Linked DNA regions of Homo sapiens. The protein of the gene in region 1 purifies or fractionates together with the protein of each later gene. This does not show direct contact. Each region holds a gene or a part of one and is shown in the gene's direction. Other genes may lie near its edges. The genes, in order: GSTM3, PLS1, SLBP and ECT2L.

Region 1 (7,890 bases):
TGCCCACAAGAGAAAGCAGGAAAGATCCAAAATTGACACCCTAACATCACAATTAAAAGAACTAGAAAAGCAAGAGCAAACACATTCAAAAGCTAGCAGAAGGCAAGAAATAACTAAAATCAGAGCAGAACTGAAGGAAATAGAGACACAAAAAACCCTTCAAAAAATTAATGAATCCAGGAGCTGGTTTTTTTTAAAAGATCAACAAAATTGATAGACCGCTAGCAAGACTAATAAAGAAGAAAAGAGAGAAGAATCAAATAGACGCAATAAAAAATGATAAAGGGGATATCACCACTGATCCCACAGAAATACAAACTACCATCAGAGAATACTACAAACACCTCTACGCAAATAAACTAGAAAATCTAGAAGAAATGGATAAATTCCTCGACACATACACCCTCCCAAGACTAAACCAGGAAGAAGTTGAATCTCTGAATAGACCAATGACAGGCTCTGAAATTGTGGCAACGATCAATAGCTTACCAGTCAAAAAAAGTCCAGGACCAGATGCATTCACAGCCGAATTCTACCAGAGGTACAAGGAGGAGCTGGCACCATTCCTTCTGAAACTATTCCAATCAATAGAAAAAGAGGGAATCCTCCCTAACTCATTTTATGAGGCCAGCATCATCCTGATACCAAAGCCGGGCAGAGACACAACCAAAAAAGAGAATTTTAGACCAATATCCTTGATGAACATTGATGCAAAAATCCTCAATAAAATACTGGCAAACAGAATCCAGCAGCACATCAAAAAGCTTATCCACCATGATCAAGTGGGCTTCATCCCTGGGATGCAAGGTTGGTTCAACATTCGCAAATCAATAAATGTAACCCAGCATATAAACAGAACCAAAGACAAAAACCAAATGATTATCTCAATAGATGCAGAAACAGCCTCTAACAAAATTCAACAACACTTCATGCTAAAAACTCTCAATAAATTAGGTATTCATGGGACGTATCTCAAAATAATAAGAGCTATCTATGACAAACCCACAGCCAATATCATACTGAATGGGCAAAAACTGGAAGCATTCCCTTTGAAAACTGGCACAAGACAGGGATGCCCTCTCTCACCGCTCCTATTCAACATAGTGTTGGAAGTTCTGGCCAGGGCAATTAGGCAGGAGAAGGAAATGAAGGGTATTCAATTAGGAAAAGAGGAAGTCAAATTGTCCCTGTTTGCAGATGACATGATTGTATATCTAGAAAACCCCATTGTCTCAGCCCAAAATCTCCTTAAGCTGATAAGCAACTTCAGCAAAGTCTCAGGATACAACATCAATGTACAAAAATCACAAGCATTCTTATACACCAATAACAGACAAACAGAGAGCCAAATCATGAGTGAACTCCCATTCACAATTGCTTCAAAGAGAATAAAATACCTAGGAATCCAACTTACAAGGGATGTGAAGGACCTCTTCAAGGAGAACTACAAACCACTGCTCAAGGAAATAAAAGAGGATACAAACAAATGGAAGAACATTCCATGCTCATGGGTAGGAAGAATCAATATCATGAAAATGGCCATACTGCCCAAGGTAATTTACAGATTCAATGCCATCCCCATCAAGCTACCAATGACTTTCTTCACAGAATTGGAAAAAACTACTTTAAAGTTCATATGGAACCAAAAAAGAGCCCGCATTGCCAAGTCAATCCTAAGCCAAAAGAACAACGCCAGAGGCATCATGCTACCTGACTTCAAACTATACTACAAGGCTACAGTAACCAAAGCAGCATGGTACTGGTACCAAAACAGAGATATAGATCAATGGAACAGAACAGAGCCCTCAGAAATAATGCCACATATGTACAACCATCTGATCTTTGACAAACCTGACAAAAACAAGCAATGGGGAAAGGATTCCCTATTTAATAAATGGTACTGGGAAAACTGGCTAGCCATATGTAGAAAGCTGAAACTGGATCCCTTCCTTACACCTTATACAAAAATTAATTCAAGATGGATTAAAGACTTACATGTTAGACCTAAAACCATAAAAACCCTAGAAGAAAACCTAGGCAATACCATTCTGGACATAGGCATGGGCAAAGACTTCATGTCTAAAACACCAAAAGCAATGGCAACAAAAGCCAAAATTGACAAATGGGATCTAATTAAACTAAAGAGCTTCTCCACAGCAAAAGAAACTACCATCAGAGTGAACACGCAACCTACAAAATGGGAGAAAATTTTCACAACCTACTCATCTGACAAAGGGCTAATATCCAGAATCTACAATGAACTCAAACAAATTTACAAGAAAAAAACAAACAACCCCATCAAAAAGTGGGCAAAGGATATGAACAGACACTTCTCAAAAGAAGACATTTATGCAGCCAAAAAACACATGAAAAAATGCTCACCATCACTGGCCATCAGAGAAATGCAAATCAAAACCACAATGAGTTACCATCTCACACCAGTTAGAATGGCAATCATTAAAAAGTCAGGAAACGAGGTGCTGGAGAGGATGTGGAGAAATAGGAACACTTTTACACTTTTGGTGGGACTGTAAACTAGTTCAACATTGTGGAAGTCAGTGTGGCGATTCCTCAGGGATCTAGAACTAGAAATACCATTTGACCCAGCCATCCCATTACTGGGTATATACCCAAAGGATTATAAATCATGCTGCTATAAAGACACATGCACACGTATGTTTATTGCGGCACTATTCACAATAGCAAAGACTTGGAACCAACCCAAATGTCCAACAACGATAGACTGGATTAAGAAAACATGGCACATATACACCATGGAATACTATCCAGCCATAAAAAATGATGAGTTCATGTCCTTTGTAGGGACATGGATGAAACTGGAAACCATCATTCTCAGCAAACTATCGCAAGGACAAAAAACCAAACACCGCATGTTCTCACTCATAGGTGGGAACTGAACAATGAGAACACATGGACACAGGAAGGGGAACATCACACTCCAGGGACTGTTGTGGGGTGGGGGGAGGGGGGAGGGATAGCATTAGGAGATATACCTAGTGTTAAATGAGGAGTTAATGGGTGCAGCACACCAACATGGCACATGTATACATATGTAACAAACCTGCACATTGTGCACATATACCCTGAAACTTAAAGTGTAATAATAATAAAATTTAAAAAAAAGAAAGTAATGCAAAAACTGCAAAAAAAAAAAAAGAAAAAGAAAAGAAAATGGGCATAACACCTACTTCCTAAAGTTGTTGTGAAGCTTAAATTGGAATAAATTAGCTAACATACGTAAACACTTAGATATTGCCTGGCATATGATAGGTGCTCAATAAATGTTAATCTTATACCTCAGGTGAATTTGTGACTGGCCTTTTGCTTTCTTGGGAGGAGAGACACAGGCATTATAAATTTCACCTGTCCATGTGGTTTGTACTCTTCCTTTCTTCTGTTTAGCAAAATGCCCTTTTAAAAAGTCCCAACCTTGCTTCAGTTGAACTGATGGGCAAATGTGATTTCCCACACCTGAGCTAGGGGATCTAGGCTCTCAGACTGCCCTGAGAGCTGTGCTGCAGAGGCCTGGCCAGAACCCTCAGAGCAGCTCCGGACTCCTTCCTCTGTCACTCCTCCACATTCAACTAGAATCCTATGTCTCCCGAGTTGACCCTGTTGCAAATCTGTGCCCCTTTTCATTTGCATGGGCCCTGCCGAAATTCAGAAGCTTAGTTCTTCCCATGACTATAGGGGCCTCGGGCAGGTCTCTTGCTCTGTCAAGGTCAAAACCCCTACTTTCCTAAATTCAACCATTGATTCTCCATCTTCATCTTACTTGATCAGCCACACTTGACATAGTTGATCACTTCTCCCTTTAAACATCTTCACATGGCTTCTGGGACCTTTTGTTTTCCTCCTACCTCCCTGGCCACTCCTTTTCAGACTCCTTTGCTGGTTTGCTCTCATTTTTCCCTAACCTTTACATGTTGATATGCCAGAGCACCTCAAACCCTTAGACCTCATCTCTGCTACTCGTGCTCCCATGGTGATCTCATCTAGTCTCTGGTTTCAAACACAGAGTGATCACTCCTGTACTTGCTGTTTCCCTTTTCCTGGAGTTCTCTCTGCCTCCTGCAGGTAGGAAGTGATTCGAGATAAGAGAGGGAGAGAACTCTTCTGGCCAGGATAGAGGGTGATTCTGAGAAGGCTTCAAGGAAGAAGTGAGCATTTGAGCACGGCTACTTGAGGAAGGCTAGGCCATGGACATTAGGGTGCAGGCAGGAGCAGAGCAAACATGCTTGTAAAAGGAACAGCAATTATTCTGTTTTATATTTATATCAGCCCATGGTGGCCCCCACAGCAGAGTGGCTTGATCTCTCACCTCCTTCAGGTCTTTGTTTAAAGATTAACTTCTCCATGAGGCCTTCTATGAACATAACCTTTAAAAACATAAATCCCCTTCCTACTGGGACTCCCCCAGTTCCCACCCTGAGACCCCCTATCTCTCTTCTCGATTTTATTTCTCTCCATAGGATGTGTATCACCACCTGACTTACTAGCTATTTACTATATATTAGTTTATTTCTTCCCCATTAGAATGTAAACTTCCTGAGGGCAGGGATTTTGTCTGTTGAGTTCAGTTCTGTATCCCCAGCACCTAAAACAGTGCCTGTCCATAACAGGCATGTTAAACATTGTTGGACAGATGAATGAGTGAATGAAAAATGGTAGTACCTTTCCTCCTCCAGTCCATCCTACACAAAGAGGCAAGATTAATTTCCCTAAATGCGTGAGCATTAGGAAGTGGGAGGGATTGGAGGAGGAAATTATAATAAGGAATCCATAAATTACTTAAGCCCATAAAACAAAGGTAGGAAACATTCAAGATAAGAGACCTCTTCTGGCCAGGATAGAGGTTGGTTCTGAGAAGGCTTCAAGGAATAGGCAGACATTTCAGCAAGGCTGCTGAGGAAGGATAGGCTGTGGAAATTAGGATGCAGGTAGGAGGATCACAGAGCAAACACTCCAAGGTGGGAAATGCAAGTGTGTGTAGAAGGAACAGCAAGTATTGTTGGGTTGGGCTGGCTTATGAAGTTGTGACGGGCTGAGGGAGAGACAGGACTGGAAAAGCACGTTGGGGTCAGGTTGCAGAGGTCCTTGACTGACAGAGAGGGGAGCTTGGTCTGTGGGGAATCTTCTGCTCTGTGTGGTCAGAGGCTGGTCTGACTCTCCGGCCTTGCCCCAGTCTTCCTATCCTTCATCCAGCCCCGGCTGGCTCGGTAAAAACGGCGCGAATCTCGCTCTCCCTGGGTAACTAGGGTCCCCACTGCCTGGCTAGTGGTGCTTTTCGCGTCTTCACTGGCACCATTAATGAATGAAGTCTGGCTCCCACCCGCGGGGAAGGGAGGAGCCTCAACCTCGGGTCCTTTGCTCTCCTGCAGCACTCCTGCCCGGGTCCCGCCTCGGGGTCGCCAGGCCCTGAACCCCAACGCCGGCATTAGTCGCGCCTGCGCACGGCCCTGTGGAGCCGCGGAGGCAAGGGACGGAGAACGGGGCGGAGGCGGAGTCAGGGCGCCCGCGCGTGGGCCCCGCCCCCTTATGTCGGGTATAAAGCCCCTCCCGCTCACAGTTTCCCTAGTCCTCGAAGGCTCGGAAGCCCGTCACCATGTCGTGCGAGTCGTCTATGGTTCTCGGGTACTGGGATATTCGTGGGGTGAGTGCCGTCTCAACGGTAGAGCCGCTCGGTCAAAGAGACTGACGCGGAGAGGGCGGGTCTCTGGGTCCGCGATCTCCAGCAGGAGCAGCTCTACGCGGGAGCCTTTTCGAGCTGCCGAGCCACGGATGTCGACCCCTGCCCAGCCTCTGGGATCGCGGGCCCTGTGGGGAGGGGCGGAGGAGACCACGCCGGAGCCGGGCCTAGGGGCCGCTTAACCACCGCCCCGGCAGGACGCAGGGACTCGGCAGCCCCGGGCCGGGGAACGTTAGCGGGCGGGGGTTGGGAATGGGTGGGAGCTGCGCAGTCGCTGAACCGCTGTCTTCCCCAGCTGGCGCACGCCATCCGCCTGCTCCTGGAGTTCACGGATACCTCTTATGAGGAGAAACGGTACACGTGCGGGGAAGGTAATGCCGCTCCGCGTGCCCGTGCAGCCAAGCTGGCCCTCCACCTGCCCTGGTCTTCTTACGCCCAGAGGGTGGTGGCGTCGCGCCAAGGCCGGGTGGGACGTTTGCCCCAATCTGGGTGAATAGAGACACATCCTTTATCTGGAACTGGGGGTTCTCTTTTTAACATAGCCCAAACCCGTCTTAATGCTTAACCAAATAGGGCTCAGAGGCTCAATGGTTATGCTTTTGGGGCCTGGGAATTTGAGGTATTGGGACCAAGTCATTTCTTTAGATCTTTTGCTCTTGTCAGGTGGGGTATTAAGGAGGTTGGGTCCCACTTAATTCCGTCTCTTACAGCTCCTGACTATGATCGAAGCCAATGGCTGGATGTGAAATTCAAGCTAGACCTGGACTTTCCTAATGTAAGTGGCTTTAGTAGAGGTGGCGGGCAGAAGGGAAAGCCTTCAAGTATATCCATCCTTGCCTCTCTCCTGCCTGGTACAGAAGGATGCAAAATAGGGGATCTTAACCCGGATAGAATAAATAGAATTCAGGGGTCCTTGAACTGGATGGATATGTATTTTCATTCCCATTAACCACTAGCAAAAGTTATTTCCTTTTATTGTGAAGAGAGACAATAAGTGACATTGGTTATTAGCCATGTCTGTCACTTTGTCACTAGTAGAAATCAGGTATTTTCTTTTTTGTGTGTTTCTTGTTCTTTTGTTTTGAGACAGTGTCTCACTCTGTCGCTCAGGCTGGAGTGCAGTGGCGCAATCACAGCTCACTGCAGCCTCAACCTCCCAGGCTCAAGCAGTCCTCCCACCTCAGCCTCCCAAGGAGCTGGGACTACAGGCACACACCACTATGCCCAGCTAATTTTTGTATTTTTGTAAGAGACGGGGTTTTGCCATGTTACCCAGGCTGATCCTGAACTTCTGGGCTCAAACAGTCCTCCCACCTCGGCCTTCCAAAGTGTTGGGATTACAGGCATGAGCCACTGTGCCCAGCCTGAAATCAGGTAGTTTCATATTCTATAACATGCGTTGCAGATATTTTAAGTGATATTTATATACATGTAAGTAAATATATACATATAATGTTATTTACTTTGAGATTATGTTAGTCATTACATCTGCTTGCTATTTAATGCACTAATAGGCACATGTTACTCTTATTTGAATTTTTAAAAATATTTTTTGATTGTGTAAATTATCTATTTTGCTTCATGCATTTAACAACTTTATTCTGAGAAAAGGTCCATGGCATGCACATACACTCACACATACACACACCAATTTAAGAACCCCTGTCTAGAATCTTGTGGACCCAGTTGCTACCTTCTACTTATTTTCTTTTTTCTCCTAACACAGCATCTTCTCACTCTTGTTCACTGCCCTGCAAGTGTTCTTTTCCCCTGGAGAGAGAGGTAGGGAATCAAGAGAGAGGCAGGTTGTTCATTTGTCCTGTCCTTTTCCTTTCAGCTGCCCTACCTCCTGGATGGGAAGAACAAGATCACCCAGAGCAATGCCATCTTGCGCTACATCGCTCGCAAGCACAACATGTGTGAGTGGGGTAGGGCTGGTGAGGGACCCCAGGCTGGTAGTTTGTCTGAGAGTGGATGATGCCAAGGGTGATTTGTTGTCATTTGGCCTACAGGTGGTGAGACTGAAGAAGAAAAGATTCGAGTGGACATCATAGAGAACCAAGTAATGGATTTCCGCACACAACTGATAAGGCTCTGTTACAGCTCTGACCACGTGAGTTTCCTTAGCACACATCTGCTGAATGGAGTATCAGAAAAAGGGGTATTTAGGAACCCAAGGG
Region 2 (7,839 bases), on another chromosome or scaffold:
GTGTGTGTGTGTGTGTGTGTATGCATGAGAGAGAGAGAAGTTTTGCCCTGTTTTTTTGGACTTATTTCTCATATTATTGTTTTCTCTTCTAAATGATTTATCATAAATTCAGAGTTGAAATGAATACTGAATCTCCCATCCAAGTACTAACCAGGTCTGACCCTGCTTGGCTTCCGAGATCACACGAGATCGAGAGTGTTCAGGGTGGTATGGCCACAGACTGAATATTGAATCTTAGTCTTTCTCACATATGTTTTTTTCTCTACTCTCTTTGTTCTGGAAAAAAAAAACCAGCCAAATGAAATAAATATGGTCACATCACACTTGCTGGTATCATTCAGAATGCACCTACTTTTCTAAAATTGATTGTAAAATTGGTGCCTATATAGTAGCTGATTTCGGGATGCTGATCAGGGCTGGGTTGCAGTGGGGTGTTGTGGTTATAAGCATGTTAGAAACCATCAGGCTCTGGGGAATGAACTAACATTAGCCACATTCACAGAGACTCGGTTATAATCCAGAATGCCAATATTTTTCCCTTAGAATACAGGGACCAGTATTGTAAATAGTAGAAAACTGGAGTTGAATCCTGGTTCTTCCATTAGCTTTTTTTTTTTTTTTTTTTTTGAGGCAAGGTCTCACTCCGTCACCCAGGCTGAAGTGCAGTGACGTGATCTCAGCTCACTGCAACCTCTGCCTCCCTGCATCAAGCAATTCTTCTGCCTCAGTCTCTCAAGTAGCTGGGACTACAGGCACATGCCACCACACCCAGCTAATTTTTGTATTTTTTGGTAGAGATGAGGTTTCACCATGTTGGCCAGGCTGTTCTTGAACTCCTGACCTCAAGTGATCCACCTGTCTCGGCCTCCCAAAGTGCTGGGATAAGCCACCGCGCCCGGCCCGCCATTCACTCTTGAGTTGGAATCCTGGTTCCGCCATTCGCTGTCTTTGTTACCTATTATTATTGAATCTGCACTTTTGTCTTCATGAATATTAAATGAAATAAACAATGTGAACTTCTTGGCACAGTAGCTAGTACATAGAAGACATGGAATAAATATTAGCAATGATAATGAAGATGATGATGGCAGTAATCACTAGAGCTCTGCTTTTTTGGTAGCCCTCTTAGTATCAATGAGCCTGGAAAAATAAATTAATAATTCAGATGGATCCTTGGAAACTGTGAAATTAGCAAAGATTGTCTTTATATAAAATATATTTTAAAAATGTAGTTGTAATTATTTAGTCTTTAGTTGTGTTATCATGGGAAAAATAACATTTTGTACTTCAGTTTTCTCATCTGTAAATTGAGGATAATTTCATAGGGTTGGCATGGATATTCAATGAGTAAATACGGTGAAGTGTTTAAAATGGTGACTACCCAGTAGCAGCTCAATTTTTTTTTTTCGGATAGGGTCTTGCTCTGTTGCCCAGGCTGGAGTCCAGTGTAGTGAACATGGCTCACTGTAGCCTCAGACTCCTGGACTCAAGAGATCCTCCCATCTCAAACTCCAGAGAAGCTGGAACCACAGGCACATGCCACCACACCTGGCTAATTTTGGTTTTGTTTTTTTTTTAGAGATGGGTTTTTTCCACGTTGTCTAGGCTGGTCTTGAACTCCTGAGCTCAAGTGCCCTTTCCACCTTGGCCTCCCAAAATGCTGGCATTACGTGTGTGTCACCATGCCCTGCTTTATCCTCGTTTTATTTTTAGTTCGTGATTTTTTATATTATTTTGAAAAACAACCCCCAGCTTAAAAGATGTTATTTTTTTCAACCAACAGTTGGAATACATGATTAGATATAATTTATGTAATAAACAAATATTTAAATGAAGACTATTCTACAAAAATTGGAACATATGGTTACTATAACTACAGTGTACATTTTTAACTAGTTTAAAAATCTTTGTATGTATTTTTTCTCATTGCTCTGCAAGCCAAAAAACAGGTCCACCAAATATACCATCTCTTTGTGAATTCTTACGACCTGATACTATTACTTCAATTGTTTTCAAACGATTGCTCTTTTAATTATCAATGATGGCCAGGTGCGGTGGCTCACACCTATAATCTCAGCACTGTGAGAGGCCGAGGAGGGTGGATCACCTGAGGTCAGGAGTTCGAGACCAGACTGGCCAACATGGAGAAACTCTGTCTCTACTAAAATTAAAAAAATTAACTAGGTGTGGTGGTGTGCACCTGTAATCCCAGCTACTCAGGAGGCTGAGGTAGGAGCATCTCTTGAACCTGGGAGGTGGAGGTTGCAGTGAGCTGAGGTCGTGCCACTGAACTCCAGCCGGGGCAACAGAGCGAGACTCAGTCTCAAAAAAACAAAATTATCAGTGAAACCCTTTTATCAAATAAGATTTCACAAGATACTACAATATGTAAGCAGTCTGGGTTAGGGTCCTTGATCCAGAGCCCTGCGTATTTTTCTCTCCATGAAACCCAGAGCTCCTGGAAACACAGTTTGAATACCTTATTTGTCATTGCTAGTGATACAATCAGTTAAGCAGGTAACAATTTTCTTTATATAATTATTACACGCTGGTTGTGCATTTCTTTTTTTTTTTTTTCTGAGACAGAGTCTCGCTCTGTCGCCCAGGTTAGAGTGTAGTGGCTTGATCTTGGCTCACTGCAACCTCTGCCTCCTGGGTTCAAGAGATTCTCCTGCCTCAACCACCTGAGTAGCTGGGATTACAGGCGCTTGCCACCACGACCGGCTAATTTTTGTATTTTTAGAAGAGACGGGGTTTCATCATGTTGCTCAGGCTGGTCTTGAACTCCTGACCTTAGGTGATCTGCCCACTTTGGCCTGCCAACGTGCTGGGATTACAGGCGTGAGCTACTGCACTGGGCCCTGGTTGTGCATTTCTAATGATATACTCTAGTTATTATTTTACACTTGGAAACAATTTTGGGAAACGGTTTTATCAATGGTATATTTACAAATCATATCTTAGGGTTGGCTGCTTTTACAGAGGGTTGTTACAGACATTTTATATGCATTATTTTTAGCTTCATTTACAGAGGATGACTTTTTATTTTACCTTTCCCAAATCAGGTTATACCATATTTAGAATCTACGTTTCCTCATGAACCTGCCCTGGTCAATATTACCACGAAAAAAAAACAGATCATAAGAGTATTTCATGAAAAAGTGTTCTCTTATCAAACTTATTGGTGAATAATTTACACACATTTTTCATGTTTAAAGTGTACAACTTAGCGATGACAGTTGTATACACCTGTGAACTTGTCACTACCATCAAAACAGAGAAAATTTCCATCGTCCCCCTCCAAAAATATTTTTTCTGCTCATTTGCAGTTTATCCTTCCCTCCACTCCTGGCTCCAGGCAATTACTAATCTGGGTTTTGTCATTATAGGTTAGTTTGTACTTCATATAAGTGGGATTATACAATATGTTTTGTCTCTAGCTTCTTCAACTCAGCATACCGATTTTGAGAGTTATCCATATTGAGTCCTGTGTGAGAGTATTTCTTCTTTTTTATTGTTGAGTAGTATTGCATTGTATAAATATACCACAATTTGTTTTTTCATTTACATGTTGTTGGACAGTTGGGTTCCTTCTGGTTTGGGGCTTTTGTGAAAAACAGCTGCTATGAGCATTCCTGTTCAAGTTTTTGTGTAAGCATATGTTTTAATTTCTCTTGGATAACATCTAGGAATGAAATGGCTGGGTCATATGTTAGATGTATGTTTACCTTTTAAGGAAATATTTTGCTTTATTTTGTGAGAACTTACTTAACTCCCCTTGCATATCTAGATAAATAAGTATCAGATAAGGATACTAAATTTACCAGATTCTCTAGGTGGCAGGTGGGAAAAATCAGATAAGAATACTAAATTCACCTGATTCTCTAGGTGGCAGGTGGGAAAAATTCCTTATCTTCCCTCTCCATGGCCCACCTACTTTCATAGTTCATTGCTCGTCCAATTTGTTTGAGTTCTTAAAATAATTTCAACTTCCCCCCTTTATTTTTTCTATTGTTACCATCTCAGGGTTGGTTGGGTGCCTATTCTGTATTGGATATTGTGTTAGGCGCAGAAGGGGCACGTGGGACTTTGAGTTAAAGGGGCAGCAAAACCTTGTTCTGTTCTCTGGACTGAGTTGGACAGACCACAACTACGGATTATGCTTCAGGCAAAGTATGTGAGAACTCTTGAGGCAGCATTCCATTTACCTGACTCACATGCGAGAGAAAATATCCCACTTTTGTTTGAGTGTGGGCTTTAGTTATATATTTATTTTAATCAGGTGTGGCTGTTAAAGGAAAAGGAAGCAATCCGTGAAACAAACGGAAAAAAAAAGAGTAGGGGAGAGAAACAAGTCTTCCTTTAATAACGTATACCTTTCCTTTTGACCAGCAGGTCCCAAAGTGTGGTACCCAGACTAGTAGCACCAGTTTTCGCTGAGAACATGTTAGAAATGGGAACTGTCGCGCTACGCTCCAGACCTAACTGAATCGGAAACTCAGTTTCCGGGTTTGGGATCTGTGATTTAAAAAGCTCTCCAGGTGATTCTGATCCACGCTCAAGTTTGAGAACTGCTGTGCTAAACTCATTCCCAGGGTGTAGGTGGTCATCTTTAGACTTGGGTAACTGTGGGCGGTAGAGATAACGTTGCCGCAGCGCCCGTCCACCTCTCCCCATCCACGCTCCCAGCGCCTGCAACTCCTCTTTCACCCTTAGCCTAAACCCAGGTTCTGGGCTTCCCTTTCCCTCCCCTGGGAGCCGCAGGCAAAACGCGGCAAGTGGATTCAGAGTTTGCGGGCCCGGGTGCCGGCCGAGCATGCGCAGTGGCGCGAGCGCAGCGGCTACGCGGGCGCGGAGAGGTAGCCGCAGAGTGGACCTGCAGGTACTTGGATCTCCAGTGGGAGCTGCCCTCTCGAAGGCAGGACAGCGGTGGCGGCAGGTACGCGGGGGTGGGGATAGGGCCCAAAAGGAAGGCTGGACAGACAGATGGAAAGCGAAGCGTTACTCCTTTGGGGGCGCGCGGCGGCTCGGGGGCAGTATCTCCGGGTCCCCTCGCTCGCGTCTCGTCTCCTGGCTGTGCAGTGTGGCGCCCGCCGTCCTCTGGGCACGCTTCTGCCCAGTCCCGGCAGGCAGTGCCCGCAGGTGTTAAATCGCGTATTTACACTGCTTAAACAATAAGCCTGTTAACTGAATTGTGATTCTATGCAATGAAATAAGGTATTTCATTAAGTTTTCTTCTTTCAACTTTGGGTGGCTGCCGGTGAGGCTTTCTGAACCAGCCTGTTTTGTTTTAATTCTGGGACTGGTTTATTTGCCTTTGGCCTTTTGGTGCATAGGATCAATAGGGCTGTAGTGAAATCCCATCCGTGCTGTTTTTGGTACCTTTCCTGGAGCATAGGGACCTCTGGATGCGGCATAAAAATGTCAGTTTTCAGCGAATTTCACTGCCAAAAAACTTTCCGTGTTTCAGCTGCATTTTCAAGTGGAGACTTAAAAAAATTTAAGATTTCTCCCTAACTTTTCAATTATTACTGTATTTCGGTCTTCATTTGGTACTATTAAAAGGAAGCGGTCGTTTAGATGAGTAACAGAATTCTCACTTTTCCTCCTTTACTTACTTACTATGTCACATTTTATGGCTTATACCGTGATATCTTTCCCTCCAGCCACGGTGTTGGATACACTTGTATGAGGCTTCAGCTGTGCTGCATAAATTTCTTGAAGAACCTGTGAGCCAGAAGCAAAATTTCAGGACAGGGGGCACACACTGAACTTGAAGCAAGTACTTTTACACCCCCCACCACCTTTGTAATCAGCTTTCCTTTAAGTTGAATTATGTAATGAAATTCTATAGTAAAGTGTTAATGTGTAATGTGGAGGCATATATATATATAGAGAGAGAGGTAGTAAGTTTAGGAAGAGGAAATTTTAAGTTCAGGAAGAGAAACCTATATGGAAAGGGAATACAGGTATCCTGCCCCCCTTCATTCCTCCCATGATAAATGTTTTAATGGCAGAAATAATATACAGCTGGTCTAGTTTTGGCTGTAGAGACCTTTGAGGTCAGCCAGTTCAGCTGCTTCAGTTTACAAATGAGAAAACTGAGACCAGCGAGGTTAGATGACTTGCTGTGGCCACCCAAGCCCCTCATTGGCAAAGCTAGGCCTGGGATCCAGGTTTTCTCATTTTCTGGGGTCTTTTTACCACTCCCTGCAGATACTCTTCTTTACCTCCATTATTAAACTTCCTTTTTCTCTTCTACTTATACCATGAAGTCTGGCTTAAGCAGAAAATTAGTTGTTTCTCTTACTAAGCTTCCTAGTACCTCATAAATTCCTTTCAAAAAGTGCCCTTTCACTGAAGCCCCACCTAACAATTTGCTGGTCCTGAAAACGCCCTCCTTCCTTCCCTCAGTCACCTGGGCCCTTTGCCCAAAATGCCTGTTTGCCTCCCTCTTTCCGTATTGAAGTCCTGCTCATGCTGCAAGGTGTAGCTCAGGTGTGACCTCTTTTTGGAAGCCTTCCTTGATTGCCTTAGCATGAAGTAGCTCTCCCTCTTCTGAACCCTATAGCACTTACTACTGTTGTTTGTGCTGTTAGTATCCCCATTGTATATAGTATCCTGAGTATTTTAGCACCTCCCAACTTCCCGACCAGGAAGTTGGCAGGTTGTGTAAGCTCTTGGAGGTTAAAGCCTATGACTTAAACATCCCACCCAGCACTAAGCACAAAGTATATTCTTAGCCCCTGTTTGTGGGAGGGAGTGGGGGAAGGAAGTGCAGTATGTATAGTTTTGTAAAGAGATTTCATGTGTGTTCTATAATATGGGGAAGGCCATGTTAGAGCTGTATCAAGACAGCAGCCAAGTCCATTTCTGATTCCTCATATTTTGATAACAGATCACAGATTAGTTAGGGGGATTACAGGAGACAGGCGTAAAAACACGGGTCAGTTGGTCCAGGCCCTGGATTAAGCCTGTGACTCAAAGTGGAGAAAAGAGGGCACAGAATTAAGAAATGTAAAGGAAGAAGCATGTGGTGAAAGACTAAATGCAGAGAAGGAAAGACATGTTGAAAATGAATTTCAGGGTTGGGGTGTTAGTAATGGGTTTATAATGTTCTTTTTATCTTAAAAGTACCTCCAATTGGCTGGGTGTGGTGGCTCACGCCTGTAATCCCAGCACTTTGGGAGGCCGAGGTGGGTGGATCACAAGGTCAGGAGATTGAGACCATCCTGGCTAACACGGTGAAACCCCATCTCTACTAAAAATACAAAAAATTAGCTGGGGGGGCATGGTGGTGGGCGCCTGTAGTCCCAGCTACTTGGGAGGCTGAGGCAGGAGAATCGCATGAACCCGGGAGGCGGAGCTTGCAGTGAGCCAAGATTGTGCCACTGCACTCCAGCATGGGCGACAGTGCAAGACTGCATCTGAAAAAAAAAAAAAGTACCTCGAATTGTGACATTGTCTCTGTTTCTTAGTTAGTGATGTAATTGTCTTATTTCCCGTTCTAGATGATAAGCTCTCTGAAGGATGACCTTTAACCCTTCACAATACCTGGCACATTGCTTTGCAGTATCAGACACTCAATAGTTATTACATGAATGAATGAATAAATAAATAAATAAATAAATAAATAAATAAATAAAAAGTGCATTTTGCCATGGGGAGGGTGGGCATTTAGGATCTTAGAGCTATATGGTAGCGCTTTATCCAGACTATCCCCTAATTGTATAGAGGAGGGACTCAGATATTCTTTTTTTTTTTTTTTTTTTTTTTTGAGATGGAGTCTCGCTCTGTCGCCCAGGCTGGAGTGCAGTGGCGCAATCTCGGCTCACTGCA
Region 3 (7,738 bases), on another chromosome or scaffold:
CCCTGGGTCTGCAGAAGGCTGAGGACTTTTGGTTAAAAGCAATCCTCATGAAAACACCCCACCCTGCTTGGCAGCCAGGGTACAAGTCCTGGGCACCTCCTCTTTGCCTCCCTCCTGCCCCTTTCCTGCTGGTGGGGGCAGATCCTGCACACACAGACACAGCGTCTGCCCCCGAGCCATTCCCTGGAGACCCTGGGTCTACCCCAGGTGGTCGTCATCTGGGCCATTTGCCTTACTTCTCTGGAGCATACCCACCCTCAGTTACGTGCCAGACCTGGACCGCATTCTCCTGCCCTGTCCTGGAGCTGGCCCCTGGCTGCCTGGAGGACCCTGGGTAGGTCCTGAGGGTGGGATGGAGAAGAGGGCACTGCTGTGGTGTGGGAGCAGTCCTGGGGCTTCCTGGTGGCTGTGACCAGTTGAGGGGCTGTTCCTGGGTGGGGTGGCAATGGGAGGACAGGTCAGAGCGCCCTCATTTGTGGGGCTGCCCCTCCGGGTTTCTCATCCTGTCCTTGGTGCCTTTTTCTGCCCAACAAGTCCAGGGAAGGCCGAGGTCTCAGACTCCTGGGTAGGGGTGGGGGTTTGAGTTGAGGACCAAAGTGCCATAGCGACATCCAGAACACAAGCCCACCAGGGGTCCAGCCCAGGCTACCCACTCCCCTAGGGTCTCCCAGGCTCAGAAGGGGATGCACGCCCCCTGTGGTCAAGCCTCTGGTGGGCGTCTTGCCCAGTTCCTGATGGTTCAAGGGGAGGGGGGATGTTGGCCAGGCCCCAGGGCACAGCCCTGACACAGGTGTGGCTACTGGAGGGGCCTTCATACCTGCGGCCCCAAAGCCCCTGGGCTTGGCTGTTTGAGGCAGAGGTGATGGACTCCGGGGGCCTGACACTTGGGATTTGGGAGGCTTCCTAGAGCGCTCAGCAGGTGAAGGCAGCAGGGGCCATGGCCGGGAGCCAGGCCTAGCTTTGAACTGAGTTTCAAGGGCTGCCAAAGAGGGGCAGTGGGTTGGGGTTGTTTTTACTACAAAATAAGTTACTTAGTTTTATAAAGACAAACCGATTGTAGCCAAATGACACCATATTTAATAAAATTTAGTCTGAAGTGATGTACTGTGTTTTGTGTTGCCCGATATTAAAACCAAACTTTTGTCATAGTTGGAGAATGGCCTGTGGGTATTGGAGAAGCCACCTTAGAGGTGGAATTGCGTGCGTGGCGTGCTTTGTTCAGAATAAGGAGGAAAAACCCATTGGTTGGGAGGCGGGTACAGTAGGAACCTTCCCCTCTGATTTCTGGTTAGGGACTCTGGGGTCTTGAGAACCCCTGACCCAGGGCCCTCTGCAGGAGCAGGGTGGGAGGGGCAGAGACACGTCCTGGGGGAAGTCACTGTGTGGTCGCCACTGCGGCTGCTTCCAGATGCAGGAACTGATGTGGGGACACATGGGTAGCCAAGGAGTGAGCAGCCTTTCCGGTTCACTTATGTTTGCAGCTGCGTCCTGTGAGGACACCAGGCTGTCTCTACTGACCTCACTGTGGGTCAGGGTGGCCCAGGAATTGCCAGCCGAGCACCTAGGGCAGCCAAGACAGCAGCCTGGGGTTCCCCACAGCACTGGGCCCTCAGGTGAGCACCCCAGCAACCGGACAGTGAGTGCTTGCTGCCTTTTCCCCATTCTGCTTCTTGACCCACAGGATGGTTCTTGGGGAAACAGTACACGTAATCCTATTGAAAGATATGACAGTGGGCTCTAGTTTCCTGCGCTACGAGTGTCTTCAGATTCTTTCCAGCCTGGTACTTTCACTGGCATTCTTTTGCATACACAGCCAGGCGCTGCTTTAACCAACAACAGAGATCCAGTGAGCATCTACTGAGGGGCTGTTATGGGCCCTGACTGTGCCAGGCCCTGTGACTCACAGGTACTTGGGACTCTTTGGCTCTGTACTGTTAACTTAGAGAAGAGTTTATTTCTTCTAAAAAGTTACAGCCTGACGAGAATCGCTTGAACCTGGATAGCAGAGATTGCAGTGAGCCGAGATCGCGTCACTACACTCCAGCCTGGGCGACAGAGTGAGACTGTCTCAAAATAAAAATAGTTAACAGCCTGCAAGATGGCCATCCCTCAGACTGGAAAGCACAGCCTCTGGCCAAGACCAGAGATGGGCACTTCAGAGGAGGAGGAGGAGGGGTTGGGGCAGGAGGTTTATGCTGAATGGGTTGGCTAAACATGCATATTCAGCAGGTGACAGGAGGAGCTATGAATATTCATGAAGGCAGTCCTGACGCATGCATCCTGAACAAACATACAATCCACATTCACTTTGGGGTGGAGACTTAACATTTAAAATGTATTATAATGAGGTTCTACACAGGCCAGAAGTGGTCCATCACTGTGGTCTCTTATCTGGACCAAGTTACTGAAATCAGTCTCTTGTCCAATGAAACTGTAGTTATGGCTGGTGGAATAGGGGCTGGGGGATCAGTCAGCATCCGGTGGAACTGCAAATTGGTTTTTATTGTTTTGAGACAGGGTCTTACTCTGTCGCCCAGGCTGGAGTGCAGTGGCGCCATCTGGGCTCACTGTAGCCTTGACCTCCCAGGTTCAAGGAATCCTCCCACTTCAGCTTCCGAGTAGCTGGGATCACAGGCACACACCACCATGGCCGGCTAATTTTTTTGATTTTTAGTAAAGATGAAGTCTTGCTATGTTGCCCAGGCTGGTCTCGAATTCCTGAGCTCAAGCGATCCTCCCACCTCAGCCTCCCAAAATGCTGGGATTACAGGTGTGAGCCACAGTGCCTAGCCTTTTTGTTTAAGTTTTTTGTAAAGATAGGGTCTCGCTGTTACCCAGGCTGGTCTTAAACTCTGGACCTGAAGCAATCCTTTTGGAGGCTTCAGCCTCCCAAAGTGTTGGGATCACAGGCATGAGCCATCATCTCGGCCACTGCACTGTTCCAATATTGCTTAGCTCAAGGCCAGTGCTTATTGAGCTACTAAGAGGAAAAGAAAAGCAGTGTGGCAGTAGGAATATAGTTTAAATGTAGGGTGTGTGACTTAACCCTTGCCTGGCATGACCTTAGGTCCTATTCATAATTTGGTATCTTATTGCCACTGGTGTCCCCTTGACCGCAAGGGGGTCCATTCAGTTGTTGGGGGCTTAGGATTTTAATTTTTTTTGAGACAGAGTTCTGCTCTTGTTGCCCAGGTTGGAGTACAGTGGTGCAATCTTAGCCCACTGCCTCCCGGGTTCAAACAATTCTCCTGCCTCAGCCACCCGAGTAGCTGGGATTACAAGCATGCGTCACCATGCCAGGCTAATTTTGTATTTTTAGTAGAGACAGGGTTTCTCCATGTTGGTCAGGCTAGTCTCGAACTCCCAACCTCAGATGATCCTCCCGCCTCGGCCTCCCAAAGTGTTGGAATTACAGGCATGAGCCACCGCGCCCTGCCAGGATTTTATTTTTAGTTTACAGTGTTGAGGGTTATGGGATGCCCAGGGCCTGGGGAGGAAGGGGACAGGATGTGTCCGTCCTAGTCTGAGGATGACTTTTTTGAGTTCAAAAGGGGGCGGTGGACGCACCAAGGCACAGTCCTGAGGGCAGCAGGTGCAAAAGTCCGGCCCTCCCAGAGGTGTAAGGCCTTAGAGGGATCCCAAGCATCCCTGGGGCTCAGCCTCCTGGACCTGACCCCACTGCCCACTCTTTTGGCTGGTTCCACTCTCCCCTGCATCCCTCACGTTGTCCCCAACAGGAAGCTGTGGGAACCTGTTCTCAGGTGTAGTGCACCCGTTGGGGTTCTAGTTGGCTGGATCCGCGGGGCCGTCAGCTGCAACTGTGACGGCGGGGAAGCGGGACGGGATGGTGCGGATCTACAGGACCTCGCCTCCAGGTGGAACCTACCTGCTGAGCCAGGGATTCTTCAGGATACAAACCCAGTCAACTCCAGGCAGAGGGTGGGAGCGTCATGCACCGGCGACACAGTGGAGGACGTCATGGACGGGCAGGGAGGCAGCGGCAACCGAAACTAGCGGCTCAGTCGGTGGCCGGTGTGCGGTCAACGGCCAGGGCAGTGGGACCGGAAAGACTCAGTGTAGTTGTCAACTGTTGCGACCTAAAAGGTTACTCCAAAACTTTAAGCGGCTCAAAACAATAGACGGCGCGTACGGGGCCTGCAGCGGCCACGGGACCGTGGGAAGCAGTCAGTACCCGCCACAGGCCGCGCCTTCCGGGTTCCGGGTTCCGGGTTCCCGCCAGGGAGGAGACACGCCCCCACCTGGGCAGGAACCAAGCAGAGCCGCGCTCCACCCAGGCCGGAACCAATGGGAGATGCGCCACGACCCAGGCCGAGAAACGTGCCGCTTACCCTTCCCCCACGACCTGCGCCGCGTCGCGCGCGGCCGAATCTCCCGCCAAAGCTGCCCCCGCCCGCCAAGGCGCGACCTATCAGCGTCGCAGAGGCCCGCGGCGGCCCGGCCGCCTCAATCCCGCGGGTGGGGGCAACCTTTTCCTCAGGCCTCTCCTCAGCCCACGGCGTCCATCTGGCTCCCGAGCCGAGGGCCGGGCAGTCGGGCTTCGCGGCTGCCCGCGGTCCCGAGGCCTCGCCCTAGCCCCAGTCGGCTCGCGAGGCGCGCACAGCTGAGTGGACCCCTGCGGCGTGGCCCGATGGTCTCGCCCGACCCGGCGCGCGCGGGAGGCCGAGGGGCGGGGCCCGGCGCCCACATAAAGGCGGTTGGGGGCGGGGCGCGCAGAGCTCGTGAGCGCCGGCGCGGGGACGCGGGTTTCTGCCTCAGGCCCTGCCCTGCTCTACTCTGCGCTCTCTGCCCGCGCCGCCGCCGCCTCAGCCTCGGCCCTGCGCTGCGCGCCCGGCCCGTGCTGCCATGGCCTGCCGCCCGCGAAGCCCGCCGAGGCATCAGAGCCGCTGCGACGGTGACGCCAGGTGAGGCCGGGCTGCGCGGCGGGCGAGGGAGCGCGTGCCCCGTGGGGCGGGGGTTGTGCGGGGCCGGGGTGTGGGAGGGCGGAGGTTGTAAGGCGGTCCCGAACCTCCCGTGCCCAGCCGACCGCGTCCCTCCCCGCAGCCCGCCGTCCCCCGCGCGATGGAGCCTGGGACGGAAGCGCAGAGCCGACGGCAGGCGCTGGAGGCCCGAAGACGCCGAGGAGGCAGAGCACCGCGGCGCCGAGCGCAGACCCGAGAGGTGGGCGCGGGACCCGGGGGTCGGGGCGCGGTGGGGCCCTTGACGAGGCCGCGGGCTCCAGGGACCTCGTCGCGCTCTCGCGGTGCCGGGATCGGTCAGGTCGGCACCCTGCGTCCTTTTATCTTGGTCTCCGCGCGGCCCGTGGACTGGGGCGGCCGCAGCAGGCCTGGGAGGCGCTGGAACACTCCGGAAGCCTCTTGCCAGGATGGGAGTCAGCTGAACCGGCGTCAGCCCGAGTTAGCCAGTTCGAGTCTGTGTTGTGCTCCCGGGAGAGGTCAGGGTCTCTGACGAGCTTCTCGTGAACACGTGGAAGTCAGGGACACCCGAGTCCCGAGGAGAAGTGAGTTGACAGGGCTTACCTGCTTGGCCATTTTCTGGGTTAGGCAGTGTGCAGGGAGGGTGGAGATGCGAGCGAAAGGAGGGCTTGATGGGGTGGGACGGCCGAGGAGGGTCTGGAGGAAATAAGCAGGGGTGCCAGTGGTCGTAGTGGCGGGGCTTTTCGGGGCTGTGGTTAGAGAAAACTTCTCGAGGGGCTTTGGGGTGGCTCGTCCCGCACTGGGGGCTTGTTGCTCCTGAGTTCCCTGAAAGGCGTGGTGACTTGGCCGAGATGGAGCAGTGAAGGTGGAGGGAAATGCGTGGTTCGGGATAGGCTTCTGAAGGCAGGACCTGTGAGACTTGCTGATGGGTTGGGGATGGGAGGCGTGAAAGGAAAAAAAAAAATCGGACCCAACTTCACTGTGCCAAAAGGAAAAAATTATGCTGAGCGCGGAATCATGCAAGAAACTACCTTTGCGTTACTTTTTTTTTTTTTTTTTTTTTTTTAAAGACAGGGTCTCACTCTGTCTCACAGGCTGGAGTGCGGTGACGCGATCTTGGCTCACTGCAGCCTCCCCCTCCCGGGTTCAAGTGATTCTCCTGCCTCAGCCTCCCCAGCAGCTAGGATTACAGGCGCATGCCACCGCGCCCGGCTAACTTTTTGTATTTGTAGTAGAGACAGGGTTTCACCATGTTGACCAGACTGGTGTCGAACTCCTGACCTCAAGTGATCCACCCACCTTGGCCACCCAAAGTGCTGGGATTACAGGTGTGAGCCACCGCGCCCGGCCACCTTTGTGTTTCTTTTTTTTTTTCTAAGCAGATACCTACAGATACAAGATTAAATATCTCCACGGGTGAACTCTGTTCACTTTAAGTGGCGACTTACTGAGCACACTAGGAATACATAATTGACTATTCCCCTACCTGCTCCTTTTCTCTTGGAACATGTAGATCTTTCTCCTTCAACCTACTTTTCTCTTTTAAATATTGAAGCCCTGACAGTCATCTCTGGAGAAAGGCACAGACCACAGACTCTTTCTGTAATTTCGTGTTCTTCTAGGTATGTCCTTAACATTAGCTAAATTCCTAAAGCAATTGAGACCTGTCTCAGACACTTTTTGGTTTACACAGGAAAGAGGCATCAAGAATGACTCAAGCCTTTAGGTCTGAACGCTGTTGATTGGGGCCATTTGCTAAGATAGAGAAGATGGGCTGGAGCAGCTAGGCATGGGAAGTTGTGAGGCTTGAGAAGCTGCTTAGAGAAGCAAAGGAGATGTCAAGAAAGGTAACGGAGTGTAGGAGTCTACATGGGAGGCATCTTCAGGCACAGTGAGTTACCAGGACATAGAGATGATATTTAGAGACTTGGGTCTAGGGGGCTGGGCGCAGTGGCTCCTGCCTGTAATCCCAGCACTTTGGGAGGCCAAGGCGGGCCCATCACCTGAGGTCAGGAGTTCGACACCAGCCTGACTAACATGGAGAAACCCCATTGTTGGGGACCAGCCTCGACACTTACCCGGAATGAGAAGAGACAGGTTAAGAGCTCATAAAGGTGGGAGCCAGGGGACCAGTTGGAAAATGGAGGCTGCAAAAGGCCCGGAGTTGCGGTCTCCACACTATTTATTGAGTACAATCACTTTAAGAAGTAGGCCGGGCGCGGTGGCTCATGCCTGTAATCCCAGCGCCTTGGCAAAAGGCGGGTGGATCACGAGGTCAGGAGATGGAGACCATCCTGGCTAACACGGTGAAAACCCGTCTCTACTAAAAATACAAAAAATTAGCCGGGCGTGGTAGCGGGCGCCTGTAGTCCCAGCTACTCAGGAGGCTGAGGCAGGAGAATGGTGTGAACCCGGGAGGCGGAGCTTGCGATGAGCCGAGATCGCCCCACTACACTCCAGCTGGGGCAATAGAGCGAGACTCCGTCTCAAAAAAAAAAAAAAAAGAAGTAGATGTTCAGGGTGAAACAGTGAAAGGGAGGCAGGCGTCATAGGCGTAATTATAGCGGTTTCAATGAATCTCCTTTGTGCTCAAACAGCATATCTAACTTATTGGAGAGTAGCTAGTGGGAGCGGGCTTAACTAGGAGCCTGCAAATCTGTCCACATTCCAGTGCTTTAAAGGAATGTCTTTCTTCTTGAACACTGTTTACAGATAAGAGAGCAGGTCTCGCTCTGAGCATGGGAACATGATGGCAATTAGGAGGCTTTCCTCCTCAGAGGCCTCTTGTGGCTTTTCACAACTTA
Region 4 (6,887 bases), on another chromosome or scaffold:
GATTATTGACACATTAAAAATAACTCTGGGCCAGGTGTGGTGGCTCGCACCTGTAATCCCAGCACTTTGGGAGGCCGAGGCAGGAAGGTTGCTTGAGGCCAGGAGTTCAAGACCAGCCTGGGCAACATAGCCAGACTCCTCCCCCATCTCTAACAAAGAATAGAAAAATTAGCCAGGTATGTTGGCACATGCCTTTGGGAGGCTGAGGTGGGAGGATTGCTTGAGCCCAGGAGTTCAAGGCTACAGTGAAGTATGATCGTATTACTGCATTCCAGCCAGGGAAACAAAGTGAGTCCTTATCTCTAAAATTTAAAAAAAAAAAAGTCTTCAAATTCTAGACAAGAGTATAATTTACTACATTTAAAAGTTGTCTTACCACATCTGAGTGTCTCAGTAGCAACACAAGAGCTTTTCCTTTGAACATATCTCTTTTTTAAATACCGCTTTCTCTTTGCTCCTGAATGTAATTTTCAGAAATGTAAAAGAAGTACCCCTTATAGAATGAAAATCTTCTTAACTGATTAATTCAGACAAAAACTCCATTTGGCAGATGCACAAGATGTTCCAAATACTTCTGCTAGCTAAAATGAAATGTAGTTTGCTTTCTTGTGATTTGAAGAGAAGCAGCAGTCTTTACTTTTCCAGCCAAATCCAGTAGCAGAATCATCTTCCACAACAAGGAATTAAAGTAATTAAAGTGCAAGTTCAATGATCGTTTTCACTTACTGCTTTTAGTAAATGTGACTCGCTGTAATTCACCATAACTGGAGGCCTAGGCCTTGTTGAAGGCTTCATCAGGAAATGTGACGCAGAGATTGTGCTGCTGTGCTTCATATTGTTGCCTTATGGGATTATACTTGAAATGCATTGTGCTGATGTTCTTGACAGGGCGGAGGGATTTCTCTTTCCTGAGCTCACCAAACTTATTCCAGTGTTGATCGCAAGCTGTTGATGCACAGGCGTCTTGTGGCAAGCCCAGCTTCAGTTTATGTTAGACAATCAGTACACATGCTGGTGTGTTTTCCAATGGCCAGTGATAAGAAATTAAATAAGTATTTGTGAGATTTGCTATTTTTTAATAAAGTAATTGTTTTAAATTAATCTCTGTTGTCTGTTTTGAAGAAACCCATATAGTCTTCAATCTGGGAAATACAAGGGTTCAATCCTTAAAAGTAAACTGTGTTTATAAAATTTGAGGTTCTTGAACTCCTTGCAAATTCTGTACCTTGTGTACATTTAAATACTGGTGTGATGAAAGAATGTGAGCTTTAAAGTTACTTACACCTTAATTTGAATCGCCGTTCTGCCCCCTTAACTTTGTGTTCATGCACGTTTACTCAGGTTGGATTTTTTTCTTTTTTCTTTTTTTTTTTTTTAAATCTAGAAAATGAGGTCAGTAACCAAGTTGGTAGTTGTTGTATGGGGAGTAAGTGAAAAAGCGCGTATAGGATGCTTAGCACAAGCCGGGCACGGTAGCTCACGCCTATAATCCCAGCACTTTGGGAGGCTGAGGCAGGTGGATCACTTGAGGTCAGGGGTTCAATACCCAGACCGGCCAACATGGTGAAACCCCATCTCCACTAAAAACACATACACACAAATTAGCCGGACGTGGTGGCGGGCTCCTGTAATCCCAACTATCAGGGAGGCTGAGACACAGGAATTGCTTGAACTCAGGAGGCAGAGAGGTTGCAGTGAGCCGAAATTGTGCCACTGCACTCTAGCCTAGGCGACAGAGCAAGACTCTGTCTCAAAAAAAAAAAAAAAAAGAGAGATGCCTAGCACAATAGCTGATACCAGTAATGCTCAGTAAACATTAATTTCATCACCCTTTAAAAACAGCTTTATTGAAACAATAATTTATGTCATAAAATGTACCCCTTTAAAGTGTACAATTCAGTGATTGTTAGTAGATTCATAGAGTTATATACCCATCACCGTGATCTAATTCTAGAACATTTTCATCACACTAAAAAGAATCCCATTAACAGTCACTCCTTGTCCCCTAATCCCCTCAGCCTTTGGCAGCCACTAACCTCCTTTCCAGCTCTCTGGATTTTCTATTCTAGACATTTTATATAAATGGAATCATACAATACGTGGCCTTTTGTGACTGGTTTCGTTTACTTAGCATGATGTTTTCAAGGATTGAAGCTTCATCCATGTTATTGCATGTACTTCATTTCTTGTTTTGGCTGATCATATGCCATGGTATGGATAGAACACATTTTGCTTATTTATAACTCAGTTACCTTTGTGTTGCAGAAGATGCTCATGCTTCTGTCTCCTTGTTTCCAGGCCACAGAAATAAGCACCTAATTGGGGGAGGGGAGGAGAGGGACTTACTGAATATTTTTCAAATCTTGATTTTAATAATTTTTGGCTTTCTGAATTCAAAGTATTTTGATCAGTAAATTGGTCTTTTTAATACCCCTTTTAAAAATTACAGCATCATGGAGGAAACTTCATTTGGGTTGTGAGAATAGGGATTTAAGGGGGAAAAAGTCGTACTCTAGGGTCTGACAGGGCGAAAGGACACTTTGTCATGTGACATGTTTTTCTTGGATTGGTCCTGAGATAGAGTAAAGCAAAAAGCTGGTTCCTGCGGGTTGTGACAGAGCAGTGGATTGACCTTGTTTATTCACTTGGTTCATTCGCCCTTTGTGTCACAGGGCCCTAAATGGGTCCCAGGTAGCGAAATATTAGCTTATCTAATTTGTATCCTTTCACACTCCTTAAACACATGTTCAAGGAAACAGGAAAAAATGCAGTGCCTGGATTAGAATAAAATTTAAGGCCTGGTTTGGTGACAGGCACCAGTACTTTTAGCTACTCTGGAGGCTGAGGCGGGAGGATTGCTTGAGCCCAGGAGTTCTAGGCTATAGTGTACAATGATGATTTTACTGGCATACAGATGAAAAAGAAAAAGATATTTGAAATAAAAATAAAAATATAGTGCACAATGACCAGGCCTGTGAATAGCCACTGCACTCCAGCCTAGGCAGCATAGCAAGATCACATTTCTCATATGAAACTTTACTAGAATGAAACTTATGGTTTATTACATAGATGTTGCTTATTCGTTGTAGGAAAAATTGAATTACAGATGATTTTTAAAACTACCAGAGCAAACCATTTAACCTATTTGTGTACATACTCCCAGATTTCTTACACACGTTGCAAAAAAAATAGATCGTACCATTCTGCTGGTTTTCTAAGCTGCTTTTTGTAAGTAATGTACTGTGAGCATCTTTTCATGGCCATAACTATTACATACAAAAGAAAAAAACAGGCTTCACAATAAATAGTTAAAAGACATTTTGACCTGAAACTAATGAAGAAGGGTTTTTTGGTTTTGTTTTTGTACCTCCTGTATAATGCTGAAATTGGTAATTCTGCAGTAAATATTAACATTTTCTGAGGATCTGCTGAAGATGAATGTGACAAAAAATAAGAAACTCCACTTTCCTCATCACACAGCCTTAATTAACATCGCTGGCTTTGTTTGAGATCAAGCAAACGTTGGCTTCAGTGTCCAAGTCTCTTCTTGGGGTCCCACGGCCTTGGGTCTGGCACCTCTGCTGGGCACCTCGCAGGGCTTCCGAGACGTGCCGCGACCCACGGGACCCCACGGAAGCTTTCTCCCACCGCAAGCTCCCTGGAGGCAGGGAAAGGAGCCGGGACCCGAGCCTAGCTGGCCTCAAGAGAAGGGCGGTGGCTCGCACGGCGCGGGCGGCTTTGCTCACTGCAGCTGGGGAGATGCAGGTTGGCCGTCCGGGCGCGGCGGCGGGAGGGGCTGCGGGCCTGTGGGGCGGGGTGGTGGCTCCGTGTTGTTGGATCCCTATGGAGATGACCCTGTCCCTGCCCCACCCCTCTCCGGAGCTGCGGCCCGAGTTGGCGCACTCGATTTTCACTGCGCGGTTCCAAGAGGAGACAGCCGCCACTGTACCGGGCCTCATAGCCACTTCCTAGAGGTAAAGCCCGTGGCTTCTGAGCCGCTAGTCTTTTTCTTGGGGCCGCCCGGGGCACATCGCCTGGGCCGGCTTAGTTTCCCAGTGCAGTCGCCCAGGAAGACCCTAAGCAGCGCTGAGGGGCGCAGGGCCCTCCCTCCGCGACCCTGGAGTCCCTTAGCAGCTCTGGAATTAACCAAGATTCTGAAGAGGCTCTGGGGAGAAACAAAATCCACGCGTAGGGTAGGGTTTGCATCGGGCCATGCCAAGTAAACTCTTACCTCCTCCAGAGAACTGATTTGGGATCGAAGTAAAGTTCTTGAACACTTTGGAAAACGCTGATTTTCATAGGTTCACACCAACTGCCTTCTTCCTTCTGACAGTTCTCTCCCTCTTTCCTCCTATGGGGTCCAAAAATGTAGGGAGTAGGGTGGGGGCTGGGTTGGGGGAATGAGGGAGGAATACAAAAAATCTACTGTGAATATAGGTCTTGGTTATAAGGATAGCTCTAAGAGTTAATATGCTAAGATTTGATGAGCAGGACAAATAAAACAGTGGTACTTTAAAATATCGATTTAAAAATACCGATGCTGTGCTTATTAATAAACTTTGCATATGTATCAGAACACAATATCCTGACATCATTGGTGTTAAAGTTCACTGCAACCCATGCAATTGTATCCAAGCCTGTTAAAGTCTGTTCTGCAGGAACTGACATTTGTGCTCCACAGAAACCTCAAAAATCATGCTCTACAAACACTTATTTCAGTGGGAGGAAGAAGGGTTAAGGACTTGGAAGTTTTATAGCAACAGTTGCATCTTGTTTGTTACAGCTTTAGTTTTATAGCTTTAAACTTATAAATCAGTGAGCACATCCACCATTTGAAAATACCAGCACAAGTATGGTATTTTCTATCACCGCCTGTAAGATCAATAGCCCAGGTTTCCTCAAAACACGCCATTATTTTCATTATCCATTGCTTAGTGTGTACTTAATAAAAATTATATACTGGCATGTAGTTTTACATGCCCTAAATGTGGGACATTTAACTCAACTGGAATTGTCTTTCATTTCTGTTTTTTCACCAATCACACTTACTTTTCTTCTACTCCCGTTCTTTTGTGCGATCTTTAGAACCAGATACCTTTTTGGAGGCATATTTAAGGAAGTAAATTTTTGATAAATAAAGGAATCATTGCACAATTTGCATGTGTGAATTGCAGAAGTACGCGCATGTAGGTACATACCTCTGCCGAGGAGCAGTGTTTTAATTTCTAAGCCACTCTGTCTACTGTAGTGGAGAAGGACCAGACTAACTTGCATTTCTCCAGCTGTATAACAGATAACCTGTGGAAACACAGTTAATTGACATCATTGCTCTTCTGTGTGATCCCAGTGAGGATTTAGCTCTCTATATGGGCTGGCAATTGTTCAGCCATTTCATCTTTTAATCTGGCTTTGGTTGTTCTGAGAGGAAAAAAAAAACAAAAAACTTTTTTCTCTTTACTCTCACACACTCAGTACAGCCCTTCACCTCTTGTCACCAAAATGTATGGGAATTTCTTCCCACCGACAACCAATTCTCCAGTGGCCACCAACTCTACGTCCTATAATTTAACCCAGTTCTGACACTGTGTACCTGGAGTTAGTGTCAGATCCCATACGTTCAGGGCTCAGTCCCAAAAGACTGCCCCCCACTTCAAATGCCAATCACAAGTCCCAGGTTGTGACTATATGTTGTTTATGATTAACCAACCAGTTACAAATCTGGATTCCCACAAGCCCCTCCTCCGGTTTGATTAATTTGCTAGAGTGACTCACGGAATTCAAGGAAACACTTTACTTATGTTTGCCCATTTATTATAAAGGATATTACAAAGGACAGATGAATAGCCAGATAGAAGAGAGGCCCAGAGAAAGGTATGTGGGCAAGGGTGTGGAACTTCCATGCCTTCTCAGCCCCTCCACATGTTCAGCTATCCCAAAGATCCCTGAATCTTGTCCTTTGGGATTTTAATGGAGGATTCATTCATAGGCACAATTGATGACATCATTGGCCATTGGTGATCACTCAACTTGAGCCCTTCTCTCTTCCCCAGAGGTCAGAGGATGGAGCTGAAAGTTCCAGCTGCATAATCACATGGTTGGTTTCCCTGGTAACCAGCCCCCATCCTGAAGCTATCTAGGGGTCCACCAAGATTCACTTCATCTGAACAAAAGATGCTCCTATCACCCAGGAAATTCCAAGGGATTTCGGAGCTCTGTGTCAGGAACTGGGGTCAAAAACCAAATATTAGAACAAAAGATTCTCCTAGCATCCCTATCTACAAGAGTTTTAGGAGCTGTATGTCAGGAACCAGGGACAAAGATCAAATATATATATTTCTTATTATTCTACCATATCACAGGTTGTCACACAACAGGCCCCATCCTTCTTTTGACTAAGCATGGAAGTGCCAATGTCAATTTCCGAGTTCCTCATCAATATACCAGTTGTAAAGGATAGTCAGCCACGACATAGAAGTGTATTTCCAAATACATCCGTAGCAGTTGTTAAAGCAAACTAAATATGGCCTAAGATGGACTCTGTACTTTTATATTTGAATGCTTGTGGGTGAATTGCAACCTAATTTAATAGGTAGACAAGAATGAAAACCTAACTTAGGAGTATGTGCCTGTAATAATCGCTGAGTCTTGGCCAATCCCAGGAGCCGTACTTCAACCACTCATACACTGCTGAGTGTTCAAACTGTGTTCAAATAAGGCAAATGCTGAGCTGTAACCAATCCAGCTGTTTCTGTACCTAATTTCTGATTTCTGTACATCACTTCATTTTTTTGTGTATAAATTTGTTCTGACCACAAGCCACTCCGGGAGTCTCTCTGAATCTGCTGTGATTCTGGGAGCTGCCTGATTCACGAATCGTCCATTGCTCA

What was found.
Region 2: the proteins of GSTM3 (region 1) and PLS1 purify together in Homo sapiens (affinity purification with mass spectrometry; 3 studies listed by BioGRID and IntAct, with this or other methods). This does not show direct contact.
Region 3: the proteins of GSTM3 (region 1) and SLBP purify together in Homo sapiens (affinity purification with mass spectrometry; 3 studies listed by BioGRID and IntAct, with this or other methods). This does not show direct contact.
Region 4: the proteins of GSTM3 (region 1) and ECT2L purify together in Homo sapiens (affinity purification with mass spectrometry; 3 studies listed by BioGRID and IntAct, with this or other methods). This does not show direct contact.

Annotation. Positions count from the first base shown.
Region 1 is NC_000001.11:109,738,024-109,745,913, reverse strand, and holds the start of GSTM3 (glutathione S-transferase Mu 3), read left to right. Parts: upstream 1-4,875; 5' UTR 4,876-4,961; intron 4,962-5,402; 5' UTR 5,403-5,626; coding exon 5,627-5,674; intron 5,675-6,005; coding exon 6,006-6,081; intron 6,082-6,420; coding exon 6,421-6,485; intron 6,486-7,547; coding exon 7,548-7,629; intron 7,630-7,722; coding exon 7,723-7,823; intron 7,824-7,890. UniProt on the Homo sapiens protein: Conjugation of reduced glutathione to a wide number of exogenous and endogenous hydrophobic electrophiles. May govern uptake and detoxification of both endogenous compounds and xenobiotics at the testis and brain blood barriers.
Region 2 is NC_000003.12:142,591,571-142,599,409, forward strand, and holds the start of PLS1 (plastin-1), read left to right. Parts: upstream 1-4,822; 5' UTR 4,823-4,939; exon of another isoform or gene 4,940-5,778; intron 5,779-7,839. UniProt on the Homo sapiens protein: Actin-bundling protein. In the inner ear, it is required for stereocilia formation. Mediates liquid packing of actin filaments that is necessary for stereocilia to grow to their proper dimensions.
Region 3 is NC_000004.12:1,709,314-1,717,051, reverse strand, and holds the start of SLBP (histone RNA hairpin-binding protein), read left to right. Parts: upstream 1-4,732; 5' UTR 4,733-4,863; coding exon 4,864-4,922; intron 4,923-5,061; coding exon 5,062-5,178; intron 5,179-7,738. UniProt on the Homo sapiens protein: RNA-binding protein involved in the histone pre-mRNA processing.
Region 4 is NC_000006.12:138,792,219-138,799,105, forward strand, and holds the start of ECT2L (epithelial cell-transforming sequence 2 oncogene-like), read left to right. Parts: upstream 1-3,868; 5' UTR 3,869-3,974; intron 3,975-6,887. Other genes in the region: CCDC28A (coiled-coil domain-containing protein 28A), read left to right, coding at 531-585.